2 separate regions of the Homo sapiens genome follow, and region 1 is reported to be linked to region 2. The links are microRNA targets in miRTarBase. Many come from high-throughput screens and were not tested one by one. Region 2 holds a microRNA gene; the other region holds the end of a gene's coding sequence.
Evidence for each region. The annotated mature microRNA hsa-miR-1249-3p reads ACGCCCUUCCCCCCCUUCUUCA and lies in region 2 at 2,784-2,805, shown strand. An mRNA with a match to its seed (bases 2 to 7 or 8) in the 3' UTR can be bound and repressed. Matches are read on the target gene's strand: a 7mer-m8 pairs with bases 2 to 8, a 7mer-A1 pairs with bases 2 to 7 and ends in A, and an 8mer does both.

Region 1: the mRNA of LTBP3 is a reported target of hsa-miR-1249-3p. The part of its 3' UTR that is shown has no 7-base or 8-base seed match.

The regions. Positions count from the first base shown.
Region 1 is chr11:65,535,396-65,539,692 of GRCh38, reverse strand. It overlaps LTBP3 (latent transforming growth factor beta binding protein 3), which reads left to right. Exons shown (of 28, transcript NM_001130144.3): 26 at 65-145; 27 at 234-365; 28 at 462-1,134. The coding sequence ends at 613. It overlaps SCYL1 (SCY1 like pseudokinase 1), which reads right to left. Exons shown (of 18, transcript NM_020680.4): 11 at 3,552-3,740; 12 at 3,359-3,434; 13 at 2,943-3,107; 14 at 2,565-2,707; 15 at 1,813-1,884; 16 at 1,511-1,726; 17 at 1,369-1,423; 18 at 989-1,251. The coding sequence ends at 1,127. Among named protein-coding and RNA genes, the nearest start is that of SCYL1, 12 kb to the right of the region's middle. RefSeq lists enhancers at 681-1,184, 1,185-1,689.
Region 2 is chr22:45,199,393-45,203,762 of GRCh38, reverse strand. It overlaps MIR1249 (microRNA 1249), which reads left to right and starts at 2,744; the gene lies at 2,744-2,809. KIAA0930 reads left to right here. Exons shown (of 10, transcript NM_001009880.2): 7 at 579-773; 8 at 3,728-3,890. RefSeq lists a cis regulatory region at 1,364 and an enhancer at 1,292-1,436.

The sequences.
Region 1 (4,297 bases), not on the chromosome of region 2:
GGAGCGAGGATGGGGGCCAGGGCCCGGGGACCCGGACGTCGCTGACCAGTTCTGCTCCTCCCAGGGTCCCATTGCCCGACATCGCAGAGCGAGAGCAATTCCTTCTGGGACACAAGCCCCCTGCTGTTGGGGAAGCCCCCAAGAGGTGAGTGCTGCCGGGTCGGGCGGTGGCGGGGTTGGTAGCCTTTGGCCGGGGCTCAGTGTTGAAGTCCATATTGTTCCGGGCCACGCAGATGAGGACAGTTCAGAGGAGGATTCAGACGAGTGTCGCTGCGTGAGTGGCCGCTGCGTGCCGCGGCCGGGCGGCGCCGTGTGCGAGTGTCCCGGCGGCTTCCAGCTCGACGCCTCCCGCGCCCGCTGCGTGGGTGAGCCGGGCTTCGGGGGTGGGGGCAGGGGCGGGGCCGGTGGTGAGGAGCCGCCTGGAGGCTCAGCGAAGCCGCACCTGTCGCCCTCACCTTCAGATATCGACGAGTGCCGAGAGCTGAACCAGCGCGGGCTGCTGTGCAAGAGCGAGCGCTGCGTGAACACCAGCGGCTCCTTCCGCTGCGTCTGCAAAGCCGGCTTCGCGCGCAGCCGCCCGCACGGGGCCTGCGTTCCCCAGCGCCGCCGCTGACGCCGCCGACGCCGCCCTCGGCCCAGACCTCGGTGATCACTGAGGGATTTCCGCGAGCTCGGCCTCACTTCTGCCCCGACTTGTGGCTCGGACCCAGGGACCTTCAGGGCCCGCAGACCCTCCCGGCGCCTTGAGACCCGAGGCGCCCCTACCGGCCCCCCTCCCCGGTTAGCGGGCGGTTGTAAGGTCTCCGGCGGGCGCTGCCTGCCTTCCTCCCAGAGGGTGTTTCCTAGAAACTGATAAATCAGATCGTGCCTCTTTACCCTTGGCTTTCGAAGCAAATTGATGTTCACGTCTGACGTGGGCGCGGGCTGCGCAGGGCGGCGCCAGACCCCAGCCGCCTCCCAGGGGCTAGACTGAGCCCGGCACAAGGGGTGTGAAATAGAATTTATTGTGGCTCTGATTATGTACACGTGAGATGGCCTGGCTGGGCCGGCCGGGCTCACATGGTTTGTACAATAAATACATCTGTGGGGCGGGCTCTCCGCAGCCGGGAAGGGCCACCGCCACGGTTCAGTCCAGCTTCCGGGCTCCCAGCTTCATGGGGCCCTTGGCCACCTTCCTCTCGGCGCGTTTGGCCTCCATCTCCCGCCGCCGCTCCTCGCGCTTCTTCCGGGCCAGCTCAGCCTTGACCTGTCCTGGCGTCAGGAAGGGGAGCCCCGGTCTCAGCTCTCCAGCCAGTGCCTGCCGGGGGCCTGTAGGGGCGGGCTAGTCGGGGAGCCCTAGTCTTCAGCCCACCCAGGGGAAGCACTTACGACTGTCAGTCTCGAGGCCCTCCCAGTTGTCCTCACCCCAAGAGTCTGGCCTCGGCTGTAAAGAGAAGTGTGGGCTGCAGTGGGGCCCACTTCTGGCTGAGGTCCACCATCTCTACCCTCTCGCCAGACCTGTGCTGGGTACCTGGGTGCTGGGACGTGCAGACAGGGTAGCGAAGGGGTCGCCCTTGTCGCTGGACTCTGGGCCACCCCAGTTATACTCGCTGGCCAGCCGTGTACCGTCAGGAGGTGGCTCCTGGGAGCTTGGCTCCTGCCAGCCCTGTTCCCAGGAGCCCTCAGCTTCCCAGCTGCTCCAGTCGGACTCTGGGGATTTGGAGGATTTGTGGTCGGAGTTGCTGACCTGTAGAAGAGCGGGAGGGGGAAGTAGCCCTGGGCCCAAGGAGGAAAGAGCCCCATACACACACCTCCCCACCAGACCCAGCTCACCTGACTAGCACGGCTCACTTGGCCCCCGGTGCTCCAGTCGTCCTGCTGGGCCAGCACAGACTCGGCCTCCTGCTGCAGTGTGGGAAGGGACCACTGACTCCCACCCCATGCTAAAGGGCAAGTGAGCCCGCCCCAGCATCATCCCAGCCACGGGCCCCACCACTGTCTTTTGCCTTCCTCCTCATTTGCTCCTCAGGCCCTGTTTCCCATCTATTAAATGGACGCTGACCCTGGCCTGCCCTCACCCCTCTTTAAGGCTGGGGAATGAGATCTAGATGCCCCTTCCAACAGCCTTGAGGGCCAGAAACTGCTGCTGTCAGCCAGATGGGGAAATTGGGCCCCCAGCTCTGCCCCATTCTGAGGACAGCCCCAGTCCTCCCTCAGCCCAACCTGAGCCCATCCCCCAAGCAGAACTGGTCTGGTTCTAGACCCAGGAGTGGCCTCTCCTTGCTGACCCCCATGGCTGGGTGGGCACTGGAGGAGGGGAAAGGGGGACGGTGTGGGTAAGAGTGAGGAAGTTCAGGGAATGCCCCAGGCACCATCTGCCTAGCCTGCTCCCTGGGGCCGCTGGGGTTGAATGGGGCCTGCTGCTGGCTCTGGCCTACAATGGCCACTCCATGAGGCCTACGTGCCAGGGATGCTGTGCTGATGAGGACAGGCCAACTCCAGCCAGGCCCCACAGAAGCTCCCTGAATGGCAGCCTGTGGATTTGAGCTGGGGTCCCCTGGGGAGGCTCCCTCAGCCCCACACACCTCCAGGCTGCCCCAGTCTTCGTCGTCCCATCTGTCAGCAGTGCTGCTGTCCTCTGCTGTGTCCTTGTCCTCCTCCTGCGTCTCCCAGTGGCCTGAGGTTGTAGGGGTGGCAGGAACAGGGGTGGGGGCTGGGGCAGGAACTCCTGGGGAGCAGAGGCTCACTGAGCTTTCAGGGGGGTCTTGGGACAGGGCAGAGGCTGCTAGGGGAAGGGGGCTACTGGGGGGAAGGGGCACCAAGGAAGCCCACAGGGTGACTGGAGCCTACCCAGCTCCTATATCCCCTTCACCATCCCCGGGGGAGTCAGACAGTAAGAGTTCCTGGGTGCCTGCAGCTCTCAGCCCTCTCAGCCACTGATGCAGCTAGGCCAGGACACTCACCTTCAGGCGTGGGTCTTTGGGGAATGTTGGTTTCTGTTGGGGCAGTGGTTGGGTGCGAACGGATCAGCTTGGAGGTGAGTGAGGAGACCCCGGTCACGGCCCAGCCTGCCCAGCTAGCTGCGGCTCCTCCCATGCCAGGGCTGGAGGCTGCATGGACATCCTTCTCTGGGCAGTGGCATGAGAGAGAGGTGGGTATGGGCACGTCAGGCACCCATGGGTGACAGGACAGCAGGAACTGACAGTGCCCTGCAGCCACCCCTCCTTTCTCCAGGCCTGATTTCTCCCATCTGTGAAGGGGGAGCTGAGTCAAGTCTGCTCACTAGGACCTTTCAGAAACTCCAGTGGGGGTGGGACACAAACAGGTCACAGTCAAGGACATGGCAGGGAAAGAGGGAACACGAGTGTAAGCCACTCACCCACTTCCTCCAGCTGGGTCGGGTCCTCCGACACAGACTCCAATTTGGACAGGAAGCTCCGAATGGCCTTGAAGGCCTGTGGGGTAACGAGGCAGAGCTGGGGTCTCTGGGGTTCCCAAGAACCTACCAGGCCAGCTAGGGGCTGACATCCCCTACAGCCCCAGCCCAGGGCCCAGGCCCAGCTGTGCCTCACCTGGTCTCGCACGGATTTCTCAGGATCTACAGTGAGACCGCAGAGCACAGGCAGGATCTTCTGGGCACAGTCGTTCATTGAGTAGAGGTTGTGGGTGGCAGCAAAGCCCAGGACACCCGCAACCCGGGACGGTGCAAACGGGTCCCTAGTGGCTCGGCTGAAGGCAGAGGTAAGGACCCTGTGTCTGGTCTACGATGGGGCAGGAAAGAGGGCTCCTGAGTGTAGGGTCAATGTTGGGACCCAGAACCACCAGCCCTTACTTCCCAGAATGGGACCACCCATAGGTCCCCAGAATCTGAAAAATATGAATGAATCACTTAAATGGGGAGAGTTGACCTAAAACTCTGGACCTGGGCTTCTCTTCCCAAATCACTGGGTTCCACACTGCCTCAGGGCATGGGACCACAACAGCAGCTGTCCCCAGGGCTCGGACACAGGCTCCCTTCCTCCCTGCCCAGCTGACCGTTCATTCCTGTTAACTGTCTGGGCACGGCAAGCAACTGAACTTACAAACCCTGGCTGAAGGGATGCACACAGGCCATGGGGCCAAGCACGCCTGGATTCAGATCCCAGATCCCTCCTGACTGTGTGACTTCGGCCAACTCACTCCTCCTCTGGGAACCCAGATATGGGGCCAACAGCGTGCAGGGTCTAAGTCTCTGGGAGAATGAAGGCCCCCACACACAAGACTCCTGGCCCTGGAGGAGGCTGTGGTCCTGCGACAGGGACCGGGCTCCAGCAGTTGT
Region 2 (4,370 bases):
CCCCCCAGCCTGCTTGTGCATGGTAGCGGCCGCCAGGGGTACCTGCAGCCCCTCCGGGCTCCTTCTAGGCGCTCCCTGGTCCTCTTAACGTCATTCTTCATGGTCGGCCTCAGCCCATGCGGGCCACTTGCCTTCATCTGAAATGTGAGCGGGAACTTCCTCCTCAGTCTCTAGTTCCCTGGGAAGTGATGGCTGATGGTGTCGCTGTCACCTCCTCACTGTCACTTGCTTCCTGCGACTGGCCCTGGGAGTGCTCCGAGTCGCCCCCAACTAAGCAAGCAGATGTGGGCAGGCCCCTCTCCCCCAGCGGGCACCATCCGCAGCCAGCCTTGCTGCCAGCCTGGGGCCCTGTCCTCAGCCTGGTCCGTGGTTCATGGGGCGGTGGGAGGGGCACCAGGAGGGGCACCAGGCAGAGATGTGGGTCCATTCCAGCTGCCCCGCCTGCCAGCTCAGACGCTCCCTCCCGGGCAGCCCCCGCTCCTTGAGGGATGGTCGCCCTGGCTGTTCATGTCCTGGGGAGGGGCCCCATGGAGCCATCGCCACCTCCCTGACTCAGGCTGCCCCGCGCCGGCCCCCAGGTGAGCGTGGCCGCCCGCATGGCACAGAAGATGTCGTTTGGCTTCTACAAGTACAGCAACATGGAGTTTGTGCGCATGAAGGGCCCCCAGGGCAAGGGCCACGCCGAGATGGCGGTCAGCCGAGTGTCTACAGGTGACACATCCCCCTGTGGGACTGAAGAGGACTCCAGCCCAGCTTCGCCCATGCACGAGCGGGTAAGGGCTGCACAGCTGGGGGCGGGGGCTCCCATCCGTCAAGTTCACTTTCCACCGTCTCCCCCGTGCTCACGGCCCCCTGGGGACATAGGTGTTGTCATCCCCAACCACCAGTGCGCAGGCCGAGGTGCCGAGCGTGCGGAGGCCCGGACCACCCAGCCCTTCTCTTTGCCTAGCGGTTTGTAGGAGGCACTGCCGCAGGGGAGGCGTTCCTGCCTTGCAGACCTGGAGGGCTGTGCCTGGCCAAGGTCACACCGCAGGCTGGTGCTGGGCCAGAGCTCTTTCTGCCTCCCTGAGATGCCACAAAGCCAGGCTGAGTCCACAGAGCCAGTGGGCAGAAGAGACTGGCTGGGGACCCAGGCCCGGCCCTGGCGCCTGCCTGGGTGGACCTGCTGGGTGAGCGTGGGCACGTGGCCGGCCTTCCCCGGTGAGTCAGATGGGGATGATGGTGACTGAGGGTCAGCCAGCGCATGCAGAGGCCTAGGCCACCCAGCTCTTTGCCCCGCGGTTTGTAGGAGGTTCTGCTGCAGGAGAGGCGTTCCTGCCTCGCACAGCCGGAAACCAGACTTGCCAGCTTGCCCCAGGTCACAAGGTCTCTTGGGATAGCACTGGGCTTGGGGCCCTGCTCTGCCTAGGCCACTCTCCTTCCCCAGGGCGGGAGGCTGAGGTCAGCAGCAGCTTTGTTCCCAGAAGCCTTTGGTGGGGCACAGGCAGGAGAAGGTCTCCAGCCCACTGGCTGCTTTGCTCTACCTGGTTCTTCCAGAGGGACTGCCCAGAGCTGTAGTTCTTGGAAGAGTACAGGTGTGCTGGGCAGGGGGGTGCCCTTGGCACAGGTCCAGGGGCAGTCTTGCCCAGCCATTGTCCAGGAGAGACGCCACCCACAGCCAGAATCCTGCTCTGCTGCTCTCATAACCTTGGGTGTGTCTCTTTTCCTCTCCAAGCCTCAGTTTTCTCATCTAGAAACAGGGCACGAGGATACCTGCTCCTTCAGTATTTGGGAGGCTTTGAGGAATCCGGGGCTTGGCCCTCAGGAGGATTCCCAGGTGGCAGCTGCAGTAGTTGCTGTTGACCTACTTGGAAAGCAGAGGCGTGGGAATGTAAACGATGCATTACCGCAGGCATGCCTGAGATGAGGGAGTGTGCGTTTGTTATACTTTTAGTTCGAGAAAGATCTGAATCATGCATATCTCCGGGTGGTCAGATGTTGGTTTTCTTTCTCTTCTGTATATCTTTTTTTGGGGGGGAGGTATCTTCTGCAATGAATGTGTTTTGCAAGCCAAAGACAGCAAGTGCTATTTTTTGCAAAGATGGGTGAGAATTCCAGGCAGGGGCCTCTCTTGTCTTTGGAATGAGGTGGTTTATATTTCTGAGTTTGTTTCCGAGATAAAGGGCCTGGTTCTTCTCCCTGGTCCTAAATTATGCCCTGGGACTCTGACAAAATGTGTGTGTGAAAGTCCTTACGAAGATGTGGCCCGAGCTCTGGGCTGGACAAACCCGGGTGCCACCTCCAGCCACAGCCTGAGGGCTGAGTGACTACAGGTCACTAGACCTGCCTGAGCCTTGGTTTTCCCATCTGTCCAGCGGGAGTGGCTGTGAGGGGTGTGAAAGTCCCTGGTGCCTTAGCAGCTGGGCAGCCCTGGGATTCAGGAGGAGGGATGTGCTAGGGTCACACAGGGTCAGCAGCAGGGCTGGCCCCTGGGGACTGCCGCCTGTGCGCCTGCTATTACCTGTCTCCTTCTCTGGCGGGGTCGTCTGGAGCCAGTGCGTGACACATGCTGACTCTGTGTATTGTGGTTGCTGCTGTTTGTTTCTTTTATCTTTTAAAAACCTTCCCCGGCTTGTGGGAACACCGTCTGGAGCCCAGCAGCTGCCAGGACTTTGGTGGATGTCGGAGCCGTGACGAGGAGGCTGACGGGGCTCCCGAAGTCTCAGTCCCAGCTCATCCTGCTCCTCAGATTATTGTTGGCATGGGGAGGAGGGAGGAGATGGGCCAAGTTCCCTCTGGCTGGAACGCCCTTCCCCCCCTTCTTCACCTGGCGAACTCCTACTCGTCCTTCAAGACCCAGCTCCAGCGGCATCTCCTCCAGGAAGCCTTCCCTGATTTCCCAGGCTGTGGATCCCTTTTGCCTCTGTGCTTCATGTATCCTGTGCTTCTCTTTCTCTGTCTCCACAGCCAGCATGCTGTCTATGGTTGTCACTCTCTGAGTCTGTCACCCCAGCAGACTGTGAGCTCCTTGAGGGCAGGGACCTGCAATGTGCCTGTCTGTCCTTAGTGCTGTGCCTGCCTGGCCCTGAGTGGGTGTGAATGTTTGGTGAACAGAACCAAACGTGATTAGAAGTGGGGAGAAGACAGAGGCATAGAGCTACTTAGCACAGTATTTCCTGTGAAGGGTGCTGGGAATGAGAGGGATGGGGCCACGTCAGCCCTGAGAAGTAGGATGAGGAGCGTGGCCCTGGGGGACAGAAGACAGGGCTGCTGCCGTCCTGCTTGGTGACCACAGGCAAGCCAGGGTCTCGGTCCCTGCCTTAGTTTCCCCATGTGTCAGATGGGCTGACGCTAGCCCCTGTCTCACGGAGCTGGAGGCTCAGAGGGTCTGTGTGTGGGGCCAGTGCTCACTCAGCGTCAGCAGCTGTTGTTACTTTGTGCTTGAACACCCCCTACCCACTGTTTGAGGCCCAGAGGAGGGGGGTCTTTCTGCCATTTGCGGCAGCAGCCTGGCCCCTCCTCGGGTAGCACTGGTGGCCAGGTGTCCTGCTGGCCCCTGGGCTGGAACGCATCTTCCAGTCTCTAGGCCCCACCTAGCACGGGCCGGCTGGGCCTGGGTCCTCCTGGGCCAGCGGCCTCTTCCCTGGGAGCTGTGTCAGGTTGTTTGAGGGTGGGATAGGAGGGGCGTTGGGACCCCCGGGGAGGGGGCTGTTCTGCTACTCTGGTGACTTTGGCTGCTTGTTCCCAGGTGACCTCCTTCAGCACACCCCCCACCCCAGAACGGAACAACCGGCCTGCCTTCTTCTCCCCATCCCTCAAGAGGAAGGTGCCCCGGAACCGGATCGCTGAGATGAAGAAGTCGCACTCGGCCAACGACAGCGAGGAGTTCTTCCGGGAGGACGACGGTGGAGGTGACCCCCCACTCCGTGCCCTAGGGTCCCCGTGCCCTTCAGTCTCTTCTTGATCCAGACCAGTCATTCATTCATTTATTCATTCATTCATTTGTTCATTCAGCAGCACTTAGAGAGTGGGTGCCATGTGCCAGGCAGCCCTCCAGGAGCTGAGGGGTAGAGCTGGGGACAGGCAGAAATGGCTGCCTCTGGGGGTCCCGTCCTGGTGGGCTCAGGCGTCTCCTTGGCAGAGTGCTTGGAGCGCAGATGTGCAGCAGTTGGTCAGTTTCAGGGGATTTCCCACCTTTCTAAGGCTTTTCAGCCTGCTTAAGGAAGAAAGCGGATGGGTGATCTGATGGCTCCGCACACACGGGGTGTGGCGGGAGAGAGGAGGGCTTCCCTCCCTTGCGCTGCCTTGGGCCAGCTCGCCCTCAGGGTGAGGCCTGGCCCTCCTGGCTCTGTGCAGCCTCCCAGAACCACGTGCTCTTTGGTGACACAGTC